3 separate regions of the Homo sapiens genome follow, and regions 2 and 3 are each reported to be linked to region 1. Evidence: microRNA targets listed by miRTarBase, many of them from high-throughput screens and not tested one by one. Region 1 holds a microRNA gene; each other region holds the end of a gene's coding sequence.
What was found. Region 1 holds the annotated microRNA hsa-miR-4423-3p (AUAGGCACCAAAAAGCAACAA, at 1,988-2,008, shown strand). A microRNA usually pairs through its seed, bases 2 to 8, with sites in the 3' UTR of a target mRNA and lowers its output. Matches are read on the target gene's strand: a 7mer-m8 pairs with bases 2 to 8, a 7mer-A1 pairs with bases 2 to 7 and ends in A, and an 8mer does both.

Region 2: miRTarBase lists EIF3H as a target of hsa-miR-4423-3p. Seed matches in the 3' UTR shown: 7mer-m8 at 3,360-3,366.
Region 3: the mRNA of RHOG is a reported target of hsa-miR-4423-3p. Seed matches in the 3' UTR shown: 7mer-m8 at 968-974.

What each region holds. Positions count from the first base shown.
Region 1 is chr1:85,131,855-85,137,048 of GRCh38, forward strand. It overlaps MIR4423 (microRNA 4423), which reads left to right and starts at 1,940; the gene lies at 1,940-2,019. It overlaps DNAI3 (dynein axonemal intermediate chain 3), which reads left to right. Exons shown (of 23, transcript NM_145172.5): 23 at 1,001-1,284. The coding sequence ends at 1,144.
Region 2 is chr8:116,640,475-116,645,699 of GRCh38, forward strand. EIF3H (eukaryotic translation initiation factor 3 subunit H) reads right to left here. Exons shown (of 8, transcript NM_003756.3): 8 at 1,656-4,629. The coding sequence ends at 4,532. Among named protein-coding and RNA genes, the nearest start is that of EIF3H, 110 kb to the right of the region's middle.
Region 3 is chr11:3,822,819-3,828,043 of GRCh38, reverse strand. It overlaps RHOG (ras homolog family member G), which reads left to right. Exons shown (of 2, transcript NM_001665.4): 2 at 1-1,066. The coding sequence ends at 481. PGAP2 (post-GPI attachment to proteins 2) reads right to left here. Exons shown (of 7, transcript NM_014489.4): 4 at 3,909-4,161; 5 at 3,668-3,774; 6 at 2,916-3,024; 7 at 1,673-2,716. The coding sequence ends at 2,586. Among named protein-coding and RNA genes, the nearest start is that of RHOG, 16 kb to the left of the region's middle.

The DNA.
Region 1 (5,194 bases):
AATACTTTTTAAACACCTGAATATTATAATAATAATATCTTAAATTGTATTATACTTTTCAATTTCCAAAACGTTCCCAACTTCTTGTAACTTTATTTCCATTTGATATGGTGCCCTCTTTTAAGTAAAGCCACCACTTCTCAAATTTTCTCTGCAACTATGAATAGATTGTGGGTATGTGAATGAATTTGAAAGGGTTCCTCTGTTACATTGAGAACATAAAAAAAGTCACTAAGGAAAAACAACTAATGTTAGTCAGAAATGTCTCCTTCTAAGCAACGGCTGATAAAGGGGGAAATGGCAACAGTAACAACCTCAGAAGATTGCAATGGAGCTTAAATGAGTTAAAATATTTACAGCACTTAGCCAATAACTGGCACATAGAAAGTGTTCACATGTTCGTCCAGCAAGGCTGGCCTGTGTGAGTGCTCACCAGGTGCCAGGTTGAGGCTGTACAGTTCAACACAGATTTCAGGAAAATCATGCACCTGTCTCTTTGCAAACATAAAATCTGGAAACAGCTCACTCCTCAATGGACAATAATAATCACTGCTCTAGTTGCATATGAAATGGGAATTTTCCTAACCAGAATTTCAGCTGGAGACTCAGCCTGGGACAGTAGTCATTGCCGTGTGATCCACAAGCTATGCCATCCATATGGACTCAGAAGAGGGGGATTTCAAAAGAATTCTGCAACCTCTAGGCTATTAGTCACCCTCCAGTCTACATAAGGGAAACAAGAGTTATAGGGAAGAAGGCCGGAAAAAGGGACTTTTTTTTGAGAGACAGTGGTTGGGGACCATGTTTCCCCCCACTCCCTCCTTTCCCAGCACATCTGACTGCCTCCTGCCCACCTGCCCTCCTGCCTTCCTGCCCTCCATCCAGCCCTTTCCAGAAAACAGCAGCCAGGTCAACTATTCACAAACAGCCCCTTCTCATCCTTTGGTATTTTTAGATATCAGTGTTTTATAGGGATGTCTTGTTTTTCTTCCCCCCCCAGAAAACATATCAGAAGTCAAAAGAACAAATGCAGGCTGAATTAAAAATGGACTATGAGAGTTATCTGGAACTGGAAAAGACTGTTCTTATCAACCTTGGCCTAATCAAAGTCACAGAGAAGGGGTCATACATGGAGGTGATGTAAAAAAGCTTCCTGAAGGGGTGTTTTGGGGACTTCTTCCCTCTATTTATTTTTATGTCAGGTGAACTGGCATGCTGAACATATATATATATAGGCTCATTTATAGACTTTTATTTCCCTGCTATTAAAACTTTTGAATTTTAGCAATGAGATCTATTTCAGTTTTTGTACCATGTATGTACCAAATTTTGTACTGAATATGAAAGTGTTCTTTTTTAATGAATGTTTTCAATAACAAAATTTGTATTTTCCTATAATAATAGAGAACTTTGGATGTCCCTTCCATCCCAATCCTTGCTGTCCACACAGAGGCCCTCATTCCAGGCAGAAGGGGAAATCAAACTGCTCCTACTTATCAGCTTGCTTTTGGCCACCTTTCCAAAAAAAGTGCTTCCCCTTGGCCACTGTACAAACTGTAGGGCCATGTGCTAAACAAAATATTAGCAAATCAAATCCAGAAATATATATATATATATATTTTAAAGAGGTTAACACATGAAGACAAAGTTGGGTTTATCCAAGGAAGATAAGGTTAATTTAAGAGTAGAAAATAAATCAGTGATTAATCAAAAGAGAGAAATTATGATGCCAAGTCGATGCAGAAAAACATTTCATAAAAGTTGACATCAATTCATGATAATAATGATACATTCTTGGCATCTACAGAAAGAATTCCTGTAATGTGATGAAGGGCGTGTAAAACAATACTACACCAAACATGGTACTTCATGGTGACAAGCAGAAAGCTTTCCCCTGAGATGTGGAACAAGACACAGCTCACACCATCAGGTGCCTGACATCATGTACTGCAGTTGCCTTTTTGTTCCCATGCTGTTTAAGCCTAGCATAGGCACCAAAAAGCAACAACAGTATGTGAAACTGAGACACAAAAGAGCTTGGAGCCAGATTGTGAAGGCTCCTGTTTACCAAGCTAAGGAGCTGGATTAGAATTTATGGGGAATGAATGGAAGGTCTAAACAGGAAGTTGACCCAATCAGCTTTATTTTTAGGAAACAAGGAATGAACTAGAGCAGGGGAGAGTCTCATGGCAAGAAATCCTATTAGGAGGCAGGAGGAATTGTTCAGGGCAAAGGATTAGGATGCCCTGTACTAAAGCTTAATGTGAAGATAGAAATCAAAGGCTGGTTGGATGGGGAAGGGAAGACAAAGGATAATACCAAGGTTTATAAGTTAGATTGCTAGAGGAAAGAAAACTTTGTCGGATAGATTTTAGCTCTTAACCACCTGTGTGCCCTTGAACAGATGACCCAGCTCTGTGAAACAGATTCCCCTTCCATCAAGTCAGGTTGAGAGAACTTAACTTGCAGCATTTATGTAAGGGGCAAATGAGCCCCTGCAGATAAGGGGCCTGTGCCTGGCACATATTATTGTCATCATGATTGAAATATCCCAGGGCTCATCCTTACACTTGAACTTCTTTTATTCTTTCTTTTTTCTGCACTCACTTTCTAGGTGCATGCATCCACTCTCAAGGCTTTAGATACTACCTCTGTCCCTGACCTGGCCTTCTCTCTAAAATCAAGAGATGTGTATCTATTTGACCTTTTGTATCTCCACTTGGATGTTTAATAGGCATCTCAAACTTAAACATGTCCAAAATTGAGTGCTTGATGTTTCCCTTCAAAAACCATTCCTCCAGCAGTCCTCCCAGCCATGATGCTGCTTGGGGCAAAAGCCTTAAGGTCATCCTTCATCTCCTTTCTTTCACAATCCACATCCAATCTGTCAGCAAGTCCTGTTGACTACACGTTCAGTATGCATGTGAAACCTGATCGCTTCTCTTCTCCCTCACTGCTACCACCATGGTCCAAGCTGCATCATCATCAGCTTGGATTTTGCAGCAGCCTCCTGTTCTCCCTGTTTCTATGTTGTCATTTTCAGTCACTTTCAGCCACAGCCAGATGGTAGTTTTAAATGGATGCTGTCAGATGCTGTCATCCTTCTGCCCAGAATCCTTCCTCAACCTCATAGTATGATCACTCAGAGTATGTTCCCAATGCCTGTCTGTGCCCTGCAAGCCCTTGTACAGGCAGGCCTTCCACTGTCACCTGGTCCCATCCCTCCTTCCTCTCCCCTCCATCACACCCATCCCAGTCATGCTGGCCTCCTGTTCACCAAACATGCCAGGCATCTTCCTCTCCCTGGGCATCTGTGCTTGCTGTTCAGTACTTTCTCCAGAGATTTTTCTAATTTTATTTTCACGAGTTCACTCTAAAAAATGGTTTGTTTGTTTTTAAAGACAGGGCCTCACTCAGTTGCACAGGCTGGAGTGCAGTGATGCAATCATAGCTCACTGCAGCCTCAAGCTGTTGGGCTTAAGCAATCCTCTTGCCTCAGGCTCCTGAGTAGCTAGGACTACAGACACATACCACCACACCTGACTTTAAAAAAATATATTGAATGCCTTCTATGTGCCAGGGTCTACCATTTTAAACAGGATGGTCAGGGAAGGTGACACTTGAACAAGGCCTGAAAGAGGTGAGGGGTTTCACCTGTAGTCTTCTAGAAGTGTGTTCCATAACCCAGTCTCCCTCTCTTCAATGAAAAGAAGCTGGGACTACAGAGAACAGGTGTGTCATAACTGAGTGTCATAAACCATGACTGGAGGCTGAGCACATTGTTGTCTCAAATAAAAGCAGGGTGTTGTTAGCATAAAGGACTGGAGTAATGGATATTGAATAAGTGTCTGCCTTAGGGTTAGCAAATATAAAGCTTAGTATAGTGGCTAGCATACGGCAAGCAGTAAATATGTTTTGCCTGATTTACAAATACAAAATGGTTGTAACATTCTTGCTATAGAAACTAAACATGGGGCTCCTTATGGTTATGATAGCAGTTATTATTAGTTCAGTGTGATTTTTGTCTTTATTCTTTTTCTTTTTTCTTTTTTTTTTTTTTTTTTGAGATAGAGTCTCACTCTGTTGCCCAGGCTGGAGTGCAGTGGCTCGTTGTTGGCTCACTGCAACCTCTACCTCCCAGGTTCAAGTGATTCCCCTGCCTCAGCCTCCTGAGTAGCTGGTATTACAGGCATGTGCCACTATTCCCAGCTAATTTTTGTATTTTTAGCAGAGACAGGGTTTCACATGTTGGCCAGGCAGATCTTGAACTCCTGACCTCAAGTGATCCACCTGCCTCGGCTTCCCAAAGTGCTGGGATTACAGGCATGAGCTACTGCTCCCAGACCTGGTGTGGTGTTTTCATTGTGTGTTTATAACCTCAGTTTTCCTGAGTCTCATCACCTGTGGCCACCGAGAGGACACATAAGCAGCCATAGCCCAGGTTTCATGGGACCTTGGCCCACTTGCTTCTCAGGTATGCTAGCCTTCTGCAGAGTGCCCCCAAGTGTGTCCAGTGGCCACTGGGATGAAGATGGAGTCACATATGTTCAAGCCCACAACCACCAGGCACTCAGGGATCCCTTCTCTCAAAATGCTAGAGCTGCCTAATGGCCTGTAACGTGGGGGAAGGTGCTGGGACAATGCTTCTGGGTTAGTTCAAGTTCAGCGAGAAGCAAACACCAAGGCAGTAGCAGAGGTGCAAGAAGCAAGGCAGAGCCTTCAGAGCTCATGCAGGTCTGGTACCTATGGAAGAAAAGAGGAAAGGACAGAAGATGATACGATTCATCTCAGACCACTCAGCGTGGTTTAATTATTCATGATACCTCTCTTGGACACTAAGACTTTGAAACAGACAAACTCATAGTGATGTCTCTTCCTTCTCTGGGATGAGTTTTCTCTGAGGCTCTTCAACCCCTTAAGCTAAGGTCCTTTTGTTTGGCCCAGAACTTCCATTTGGCAGACAAGGCCAGGCATGCTGAATCCCAGTAAAGAACACAGCTGAGCCTCAAGCGAGGATGCTAACCACCTGTACTGAAGATGTAGGAATATCAGGTGTGAATGCAAATAGAATTAACTGGTATGCCTCCTTCCAATCCCCACAGCTCCAACCCTTTCCCCTACCACCCATTGTGAGTCGATCTGATCTTCTGACCTTAAGTCATTTGGTCTGGTCTACAGTGTAGTGAAAAGACAG
Region 2 (5,225 bases), not on the chromosome of region 1:
TCCATCTCCTATCCTCTCAACTCATGATGGTTCCAGGGAATACTCAAGTTAGTAAGACTCTGAGGATGTATTCAATCTGTAGCAGACTGCTTGCCATTGAGTCAATGAAGATTGAAAATTGGTTGCCTAACTCATAAAAAAATGCAAATGGCCTCAACATCTAATCTCATGGAATCAAACATTTTTTAAGGACAGGTGCAGTGGCTCACATCTGTAATCCCAGCTCCTTAGGAAGCCAAGACAGGAGCCAAACCAGCCAGGACAACAAGGCTAAACTCCGTTTCTACAAAAAAAATTAGCCAGGTGTGATGGTATGTGCCTAGGGTTCCAGCTATTCGGGAGGCAGAGGTGGATCACCTGAGCCCGGGAGGTTGAGGCTGCAGTGAGCGGTAATTGTGCCCACTACACTCCAGCCTGGGTGACCGAGTGAGACTCTTTCTCAAAAAAAAAAAAAAAAGTATAGAGATGGAGTCTTCACTATGCTACCCAGGCTAGCCTTTAAAAAAAAATGTCAATAGCTTTTGGGGGTACAAGGGGTTTTTAGTGACATGGATAATCTGTATAGTGAAGTCTGACATCTTAGTGCATCCTTCACCTGAGTAGTGTACATTATACCCAATATTCAGTTTTTATCCCTCATGCCCCTCTTACTCTCTTCCCTTCTGAGTCTCCAAAGTTCATTATACTCTGTGTGCCCACAGCTTCACTTAGAATAATGGCCTCCAGATCCATCCGAGTTGTTGTAAAAGTCATTATTTCATTCTTTTTTATGGCAGAGTGGTATTCTATGGTGTAGAAATCAAATTTTGACTTTAATAAACTCATCACATGGCAACTACGCGAGGGCTTAACAGCCTGTAAGAATAAGAATGCAAGTACTCAGACAAAGAAATGTCTGGGAAACACCGAACTCCTACAGAATGGCCCAAACTCCCCACATTGGAGCAGGGGTATAGCACTTGGAAACCATTCCTTGCATACCCGGACTATATCCCTAAAATCACCATTGAGGCTTATGCAAAGCCATTTCAGGTTCTGCCAGTAGCTGTGGAGCCAAACAGGCTCAAGGTGCATTATAGGGAAGTGTCTATTTATATAAAATGAAGTCTCAAGGCAGTAAGTACTAGGCCACAGCAGTTTGCTCCAGCAAACTGTAATTTCCCAATAGTTCTGGCTTCCTATTTCTCACTCCCTGTCTCCAGTAATTTGGAGTCAAATGAACCCCTCTTCCAATCCATCCAAAGAGGTTCTGACTCCAACTTGGGAGTCACCACTTTTCAATAATAGACTCAGATCTTTATCCTTTTACCACAATGACTATTAACCACTGTCACCCCTTCTGTACAACCCAATTGCAGAAGGATCCTCTGTTAACATGGCCCAAAGCACTCTCCAAGGCACTTATGACTTCATACTCTATCAGCTTGTAGGACTTCATGTTCCCTTCTTGGGTCATATGCTGATTAATAAGCTCAGAGGCAGAATCTGTGTCCTGTCTGCTTTGGAACATCAAGAGTGCTTGACATAGTAGGTATCTGATAAATACTTCTTAAATTAGAAAAAAAAAAGAGAGAATTTTTAAAAATACAGAGCTAGCATAGAAAAAGATGCCCAGTGAGATTTTTTTTTAAAATGACAGTGTATTACATACTTAATTTGGTTGAGAAGTGTTTATTGTAAAAATGGAGTTTATAATGAAAATAAAAAATTATTTCATAACATTCTGATACCACTACACCTGAGTTCGATGCCAGCATGGTTTGAAAGTGAAGCTGATACAAGTTTTCTAAAGGATGTTAAAAAACTATAGTATGAAGAATGTAATAATATTTTAGAAGACATTAAAACTTAAATATTTAGATGCTGTATATGAGAAATCACACCAAGCTCTCTTAATTAGGTTAACATTAGACAACTACATCTCAATTTCCAAGCTTCCAAAAATAGGTAAAAAAATTATTTTAGTTTAAGTTGATATTAAAAACACATTGGGAGCAGGAATCCATTCTTTCAGGTTTTAAGAATAATGTTATGATTATTAGATTATTATCAATGATTAGAAAGTTAATGTCAAATATCTTCTACTTTCTTGGTTTTTTAACATTCGATTTTTTCATTAGATTAACATGCTAGCTTTTCCTGTCTTTCTGTTCTTGGGTAAGTGAATGATTTATTAGACCTGGTGCTCAATTTACGAGCTTTTCTCATTTCAACTTGAAGAAACTGCAAATATTTATAGAAGATGAATCACATGTATTTGTTCCTGAAAAATGTCAGAATACAGCACTCAAATCAAATGCCGAACAGAAGCTATTCCCTAACACTACATACTGTGGCGAGTTAATTTCCACTGACATGTTTTCCTAAACAGTTTTTCCCACTATGATTAATTCCCAAATCAAAAATTACTGAAATCTTTCATTAAGTGTGTATTCATGTTACCAAGATATAGAAATCTAAACAATCATAAAGAATTTAAGAATCACACCTTTAAAAACATATTGAATTGACTCAGTTAAATTACTCTTAATCCTAAAAAATACATAAGTTATGTTCCAACTGATTTTCCTTGCTTTTATTTTGCTCGCTTGCTACTTTAAGGGTGCTTTGTTTAACTCCACAATAAGATCCCAAGTCTAGAAAATTAGAATGCAGAGGAAATGAACCAACAGAGCATATACTCCACAAGGGCAGGGGCCATGGCCAGTTTTACCTGTTAATATATCCCTTCTGTCTAACACAGTCACACTCAAATTTGTGTTGACTCCAATTTAAGGTTATCACTATGGGTAGGAGGGCAAAACAGCAGAAACTTTTGAAGGCAATTTGGCAATACAGGTAAAAGGGCTGACATTTTACATACCCTTTGACTCGTAAGTCTATATCAAAGATTATCCTAAAGAAATAATTATATATGTGAGCAAGTACTTGGATTCTAGAATGTTCTAGGCCCTGAGCTTTTTAAAGTAAAACCCAGCCAACAACCCAACATCCTGGAAGGGGTGCCTAGAATGCCTCCCTCATCATAAATACAGGCTGAGTGGCTGCCACATACCAACCAGAGTTTGCATGCTTCACCCAAACCCCCAACAAACGTCTTCAACACTCACAGCCACCTTGTGAGGTAACAGACCTGCTCTCATTTCTTATCTTATCTGGTTGACAAAAAGTGAGGCACAGGGAGGTTAAATAACTTAGGAAAAGGAGGAGCCAGGTTTCAATCTGGCTGCCTGATCCCAGAGCCCCAGTAGTGCCTTCAAAACAATGTTGTCCAAAAAATGAATTTCTCGACTCTCCTGATCTTTCACCCATCTCCTTTTTTGATAACCCTCCTAGGGGATCATAATCAAAAATTCTCATAGGCACACCCCCACCAGCTGGCAGATCTCACTGATTTTGGTGATGCACAAACAGCAAAATCTGTGATTATCTTTAAAATATAAAAATTACTAAAATATGTTTTTCCCAATGTACTACCATTCTCCTAATTCCTAATTCCTCATTCACAACACTTGCTGTTAGCAGAATTATACTTCATGGTTTCGGAAGACAAATGTGAAGTCCTAAATAATATAAACAAAATGAAGTTTACTTGTGGTGGCATGATTCTTTTCTTTAAAATTTCTGTGGCCTGTCCAGGAGTGGTGGCTCATGCCTGTATTCCCAGCACTTTGGGAGACAGAAGCAGGTGAATCACTTGAGGTCAGGAGATGCAGACCAGCCTGGCCAACATGGTGAAACCCCATCTCTACTAAAAATACAAAAATTAGCCAGGCGTGATGGCACACGCCTGTAGTCCCAGCTACTTGGGAGGCTGAGGTGGGAGAATCGCTTGAACTCAGAAGGTGGAGGTTGCAGCGAGCTGAGATTGTGCCACTACACTCCAGCCTGGGCAACAAAGTGAGACTCTGTCTTTAAAAATAATGATGATAATAATAATCTTGTGTCCCATGGCCTATGAGTACGGGGACTGGTTGACCATCACCTGCAGAAATGAAAAGGCAGACTGACCGGAATTAGGCCAAGTGATTCCGGGTCCGGGGACAAGGAATTCCTGGGCAAGTACATGAAGCCTGGACTTCTCTCGGGGTGCTCATTTGGGAGCAGCGAAGTATAAAAATTCAAAAAAAAAATATTCACAGTAGATGCCAGGGCCTCGGGGTCAGGAGCTGGGATAAGTAGTTGGGAGAAGTGGGTTGAAAGGTGGCACCTGAGAGGCAGCAAAAGTGGTGGAGCCTATAGGTTTCTGCCTGGTGAAACTTCCGGTCAGGGCTTGTTTTAGCTTTTAGAAATAAACAAGTATAAGCAAACAAAAGTAAGCCAGAGAAAATACATCTAAAATCAAATGAGCAAGCAGTCAAGATTTTGTTTTATTTTATTATGGCTAGAAAGACACTGTTATAGCCAAAATCGGCAATGACACTAAAGAAATCCTCTGTGCTTTTCAATATGCAAATATATTTCTTCCAAGAGTTGCCCTGGTGTGACTTCAAGAGTTCATGTTAACTTCTTTTCTGGAAACTTCCTTTTCTTAGTTGTTGTATTCTTGAAGAGCCTGGGCCATGAAGAGCTTGCCTAAGTTTTGGGCAGTGAACTCCTTGATGTTCTGGCAGTAAGTGTTTATCTGGCCTGTGCATTTGAGAAAGAGATAGAGCCATAATGTTCCACAAATTGTAAAATGATCCAGAAAGCTAGTCAAACAGAAAAATCAGCATAAAACAGAATCACCTGTTTATTGTTTTGAATCCAGAGTTTATTTTTCCATAAGGGATAAGAAATACAAGTTCTTTTGAAAATAAGCTACTGTCCACTCTCAATTACATGGAGAATAAAGAAAAACTACTCCTCAAAAGCTTATCAGCCCTAAGGACATAATAGCTGTCAGTCAAAAGGACTGACTAAATAGATCAAACCAATGCTGTACAACTGAGAAAACAGCGCTGACTAGCCTTCACAGGTAGAAAGGAGATACTAACAATAAATCACAGAGCTGCAAACCAGCCAGACCCACTGGACCCAGATGTGAACAAGTACGGTAGGTTTTCAGTTTGTGCTTTGGGAACGTTAAGGAGTTTTCTCCTACGAGCCAGACAGAGTAAGAGTAAAGAGTTCACTTGAAGAAAGGGCTCCATCATTGCTTTTTATGTCTTTAATGATCTAATCCCATGCAACAGTTACATCAGTTACATACTTCTTCAAAATATAAGGATCTCAATTCTGTTTGA
Region 3 (5,225 bases), not on the chromosome of region 1:
CATCCCCACCGTGTTCGACAATTACAGCGCGCAGAGCGCAGTTGACGGGCGCACAGTGAACCTGAACCTGTGGGACACTGCGGGCCAGGAGGAGTATGACCGCCTCCGTACACTCTCCTACCCTCAGACCAACGTTTTCGTCATCTGTTTCTCCATTGCCAGTCCGCCGTCCTATGAGAACGTGCGGCACAAGTGGCATCCAGAGGTGTGCCACCACTGCCCTGATGTGCCCATCCTGCTGGTGGGCACCAAGAAGGACCTGAGAGCCCAGCCTGACACCCTACGGCGCCTCAAGGAGCAGGGCCAGGCGCCCATCACACCGCAGCAGGGCCAGGCACTGGCCAAGCAGATCCACGCTGTGCGCTACCTCGAATGCTCAGCCCTGCAACAGGATGGTGTCAAGGAAGTGTTCGCCGAGGCTGTCCGGGCTGTGCTCAACCCCACGCCGATCAAGCGTGGGCGGTCCTGCATCCTCTTGTGACCCTGGCACTTGGCTTGGAGGCTGCCCCTGCCCTCCCCCCACCAGTTGTGCCTTGGTGCCTTGTCCGCCTCAGCTGTGCCTTAAGGACTAATTCTGGCACCCCTTTCCAGGGGGTTCCCTGAATGCCTTTTTCTCTGAGTGCCTTTTTCTCCTTAAGGAGGCCTGCAGAGAAAGGGGCTTTGGGCTCTGCCCCCCTCTGCTTGGGAACACTGGGTATTCTCATGAGCTCATCCAAGCCAAGGTTGGACCCCTCCCCAAGAGGCCAACCCAGTGCCCCCTCCCATTTTCCGCTACTGACCAGTTCATCCAGCTTTCCACACAGTTGTTGCTGCCTATTGTGGTGCCGCCTCAGGTTAGGGGCTCTCAGCCATCTCTAACCTCTGCCCTCGCTGCTCTTGGAATTGCGCCCCCAAGATGCTCTCTCCCTTCTCCAATGAGGGAGCCACAGAATCCTGAGAAGGTGAATGTGCCCTAACCTGCTCCTCTGTGCCTAGGCCTTACGCATTTGCTGACTGACTCAGCCCCCATGCTTCTGGGGACCTTTCCTACCCCCATCAGCATCAATAAAACCTCCTGTCTCCAGTGGCCCCGGCTCCTCCCTGTGTGCTGGGCATTAGCGGGTGGGCATGGGCTAGGGCTCCCCAGAGACTGGGAGCCTTTTGTTTCTTCTAGTAGACAATAGGCTTCATTGTGGTCCCCTCACCCCTCAATTTCCCTAACAAAGCTCTAGGCTCCCTTGGAGGGGGCAGTCTTGCTCTGGGGCCCAGTCACAGATGCTGTAGTGGACTCAGACACAAAACCTGAGGAAAGACTTCTTGATCTTAGGGCTCAGAAAGGGAGAGGTTCAGAGCCATTAGTCTAAAGGCAGATGCTCCCACAGTCATGCATGTGACAGCTGTACCTCACATCCCCAAGAGGACAGCTTTAACAACAAGAGTTGGAATTTGAACCCAGGTCTCTGTCTCAACTGAAGACTTCCAGGTACCCTAGCTTGCAGTCCTAGAATCATTACAGATAGCTCACTCACTCCTGCTCACCAAAATAAAGGCTTAGACCAGCTTTAGGAGACTCCAGACCTAAGGGGGACTGGGGGGTTCTGCTAGGAATCATACCCTGCCGTGGACTTACTCCCTCCCCATTCTTGAGCCTGTTTCTCTCCCAGTTCCTATCAAACAAGATGAGCCCCAAGACTAGCAAGCCTAGGCAACTGTTGGCCCAAAAAAAAAATTTATTTTCCTTTCAAATAAAATGTACAACCAAAATTTAGGGTTTGGAGCAGTAGGGAAGACAGGAGATACCAGGGAGCCCATTTTACAGTAGAGATCTGCATCTGACCCCTCTATCCCATACCTTTGCAAAGGAGGGGAGGGGTCTACAAGCCAGAACTTTCAGAAGAGAAGAAAATACATGCTGTGCTGGTGCTGTTTCTGGAGCAGGTCATCCTTTAGGTATAGAACACCACCTCCACCCGATGACATCAGAACCACTGACTGGTAGAGTCCTTGGAAATCATACAGTCCACCCATCCCCCGCCAGACACATGGACACACCGAGGCTCAGATGGGGAAGGGTACATACCCTAGGGCACACACCAAATCAAAAAGGTGAAGTCAGGACTAGAACACCTGAGCAACTTTAGCAGGGGACTGTGGCCACAGGCCTGGATGTGCACAGTAGATCATGAAATACATTAGTCCTATGAATGACCCCCGTGCAGAGAAATGGCTGTGGTTGTCAGGGAGCAGCCACTGCTCAGGGGCTCCTGACCTCAGTGAAAGGTGACTGTGTAAAGGCCAGAAACTGGATGGTGGTCATGAACCTCAGGACGTTTTTTTTTTTAGCACCAAATGGTGGAGCTCTCTGCCAGCTCAGCTTCTTGGGGCCTCTCAGGTAAAGGTGATGTTTGAGGACCCCACGCCCATATGAGGGGTGGAGAGGAGAAGCCAGCAGCACTGGGGTGAGCCTTGGCCTACACCCTTCCTTCTTACCCTTCCCCCATCTTCAGTAAGGCCAAGAGAGGATGTGGGGTGGGGAAGGCCAGAATGGTATCGTGTTTCTTGTTTCTGGGCAGTGGGCTGCGTCCTCCCAAGCAGGACTGAAGGGTTCAGAATCGCTTTTCCTCAGGCTGAGAGGTTATGAGCAGCTCCTTGTTCCCGAAGTCCCACCAGGCCGTCATGTGGAACGCCATGTTGGTTAAGACAACAGTGTACTCCAGGATGGCAAAGATGGTGTACACTGTTGTGAGGACACAAGGAACAGGACATGGTGAACTTCCAGCTACCCGCTCAGAGGCCTCTTGATAAATCACACCACCATTGGTCTGCCACAGAGAACACAATGGCAGCCAGTCCCCAAGACCATTGCCCATTATCAAAAACATCATTGCTGCCCCGCAGCCACTCATGACCGCCTGTGGATCCTATCCTGGCCTCACCTCCAGCCTCACAATACATGTTGTGCCGAAAGTAGACAGCCAGCGCCGAGAAGAAGGAGATGAAGTTGATGATGAAGAGCCGCTGTTTCCAGCTGTAGGACTTGCGATCCTAGGGAATGGGCTGTCTGATCACTCTGCAGCTTGCTGGGTATGAGAGCGTGGGCTCCCCTCTCAGCCCTAACTCCTAAGGGCTGGGCCTTATCTCCCTTGGCTCCCACTAGCGGTCATGGAAGGGAGCACAGGCAGGGGCAGCAAGAATGACGACTATGTGTTCACGTCCCTGCCTCTGGGGGAGTGATGGGCCGAGGAGCAGTGGTATTCCTGCCGCTTCCACTTCAGGGGGATGGAGTATGAAAGTTACATGGAGTCACCCACCAACCCCACCTCCAAATACTGTGGGGGAAAAGAAACCCATGTACATGGGTGGGGCGCTGGAATTATGACAGACCAGTCCTCTGACACTGTTCCTAACTCACTGCCGCCTAGATGCGACTCCTCATTCTATCCCCATTTGCAGCCTCCATCTCTTCTATTCTCCAGTCTCCCACACTACCCAAACACAGTGCTATAGTCCTAGATTCTGACCAACCACCCTCAGTTTGTTCCCAAGCCCCAGCCCCAACCCCAGCACCCCTCTGCCAGGGTTCCCATTAGAACTCAGTTCCCACCTCACCATTACCCGAATCCTGAGGACAGATGTCCTTGATTTTCTTCTGGGCTGCCTTGGAGCCCCCGCTAGGGATAGACCGTACCTCCTGACTTACTGTGTGCTTCTTGGTCAACCGCCAGAGAATGCAGGTGAGGAGCATGTGCCCGAGGGATGAGGCAATGAACACAATGAAAGCATTTTCGTGGATGGCTGGAGGGAAAGAGGATTGGGAGCCACATTGCAGGGAGTGCCCACACCACGAAGTAGGAAGGTCCGAATGTGGTAGGGGCAGGCCCGTCCCCTCAGGGAACACTTCCCCACTCCTCCCTCATCCAGGCACCCACTGAAGTCCTCGGAGGAGGAGACATAAGTGAGCACTAGCAACGCGAGGTTCTCCACGACATTGAGGCCGAAGTTGAGGCGGCAGAGCGGGCGATAGCAGGAACACGGGGAGGTGCAGCTGAGGTAGTGGTTCCAGTAGGCGAAGGCCACCAAGAAGCGAGGCGCCGAGTGCAGGCCGATGCAGAAACGCCACACGTAGCGCTGGGGCACCTCCCCGCCGATGGCTGAGCTCACCGAGGGCAGGTAATTGGGCACCTAGAGAGTTGTGACCTGTCTGGGCATCTGCCTCTGCCAGCCCCGCCCATGTGGAGAACCTTCTCTCCATCTGACAAAATCACTCTTGCCTCTGCTCCAGCCCCTCCCCTTCCAAGAAGTCCTCCTTCAGATGTCCCCATACCTCTCCCAAAAGACCTCTCCTTCCAGGTCCTAGGCCCAAAGTGCTGGATTCTCATTCCCCAGCTATCCTGGGATTTGTGCAGCAGCATGGTGGCACCTTCTCCATCTCCCCCGCAGACTGGAACCTGCCTGTGTTTGGTCAATGTGTAGATGGGTTCAGATGCTCTACACCCATAGCTCAGAGCTGTGCCTCCACTAAGACCCTGGGTGAGTTCCAAGGCCTCAGATTCAGTCCAGAGGACAGGGATGAGTCACAGACCATCTGAGCTTCCTTAGAACAGTGCTGGATTCACTGCTCAGCTAAGATGTTCCTCAGTCTGCTCCCAGCGCCACTCACTCCTCTAGGCAGGTGTGCCAAGGTGGTAGAATGGCACCCCTGCTCTGATCATGATTAACAAAGTGGGTGGGCTGGGCACGATGGCTCACATCTGTAATCCCAGCACTTTGGGAGGCCGAGGTGGGTGGATCACCCGAGGTCAGGAGTTAAAGACCAGCCTGGCCAACATGGCAAAACTCTGTCCCTACTTAAAAAAAAAAAATTAGCCAGGCGTGGTGGCCAGCGCCCGTAGTCCCAGCTACTCAGGAGGCTGATCAGAAGAACTGTGTGAACCTGGGAAGCGGAGCTTGCAGTGAGCCGAGATTGTGCCACTGCACTCCAGCTTGGGCAACAGAGTGAGACTCTGTCTCAAAAAAAAAAAAAAAAAAAAAAAAAAAAAAGAAAAGAAAAAAGAAAGTGGGTGCTCCTAACCTGGGGTAGTCTAAGGAAATGACCATGTTCTTGTGCATCTCCACCATCCATCTTAATGCCTGGAACTCCTATTGAAGCTTCAGTCCTTAAGGAAAAAGGAGAAGATAATACACAGCTGCAGGGACTGGTGTCTTGCTTGTTTGAGAGGTGAAAGGATGGGGGATGACTGAACAAG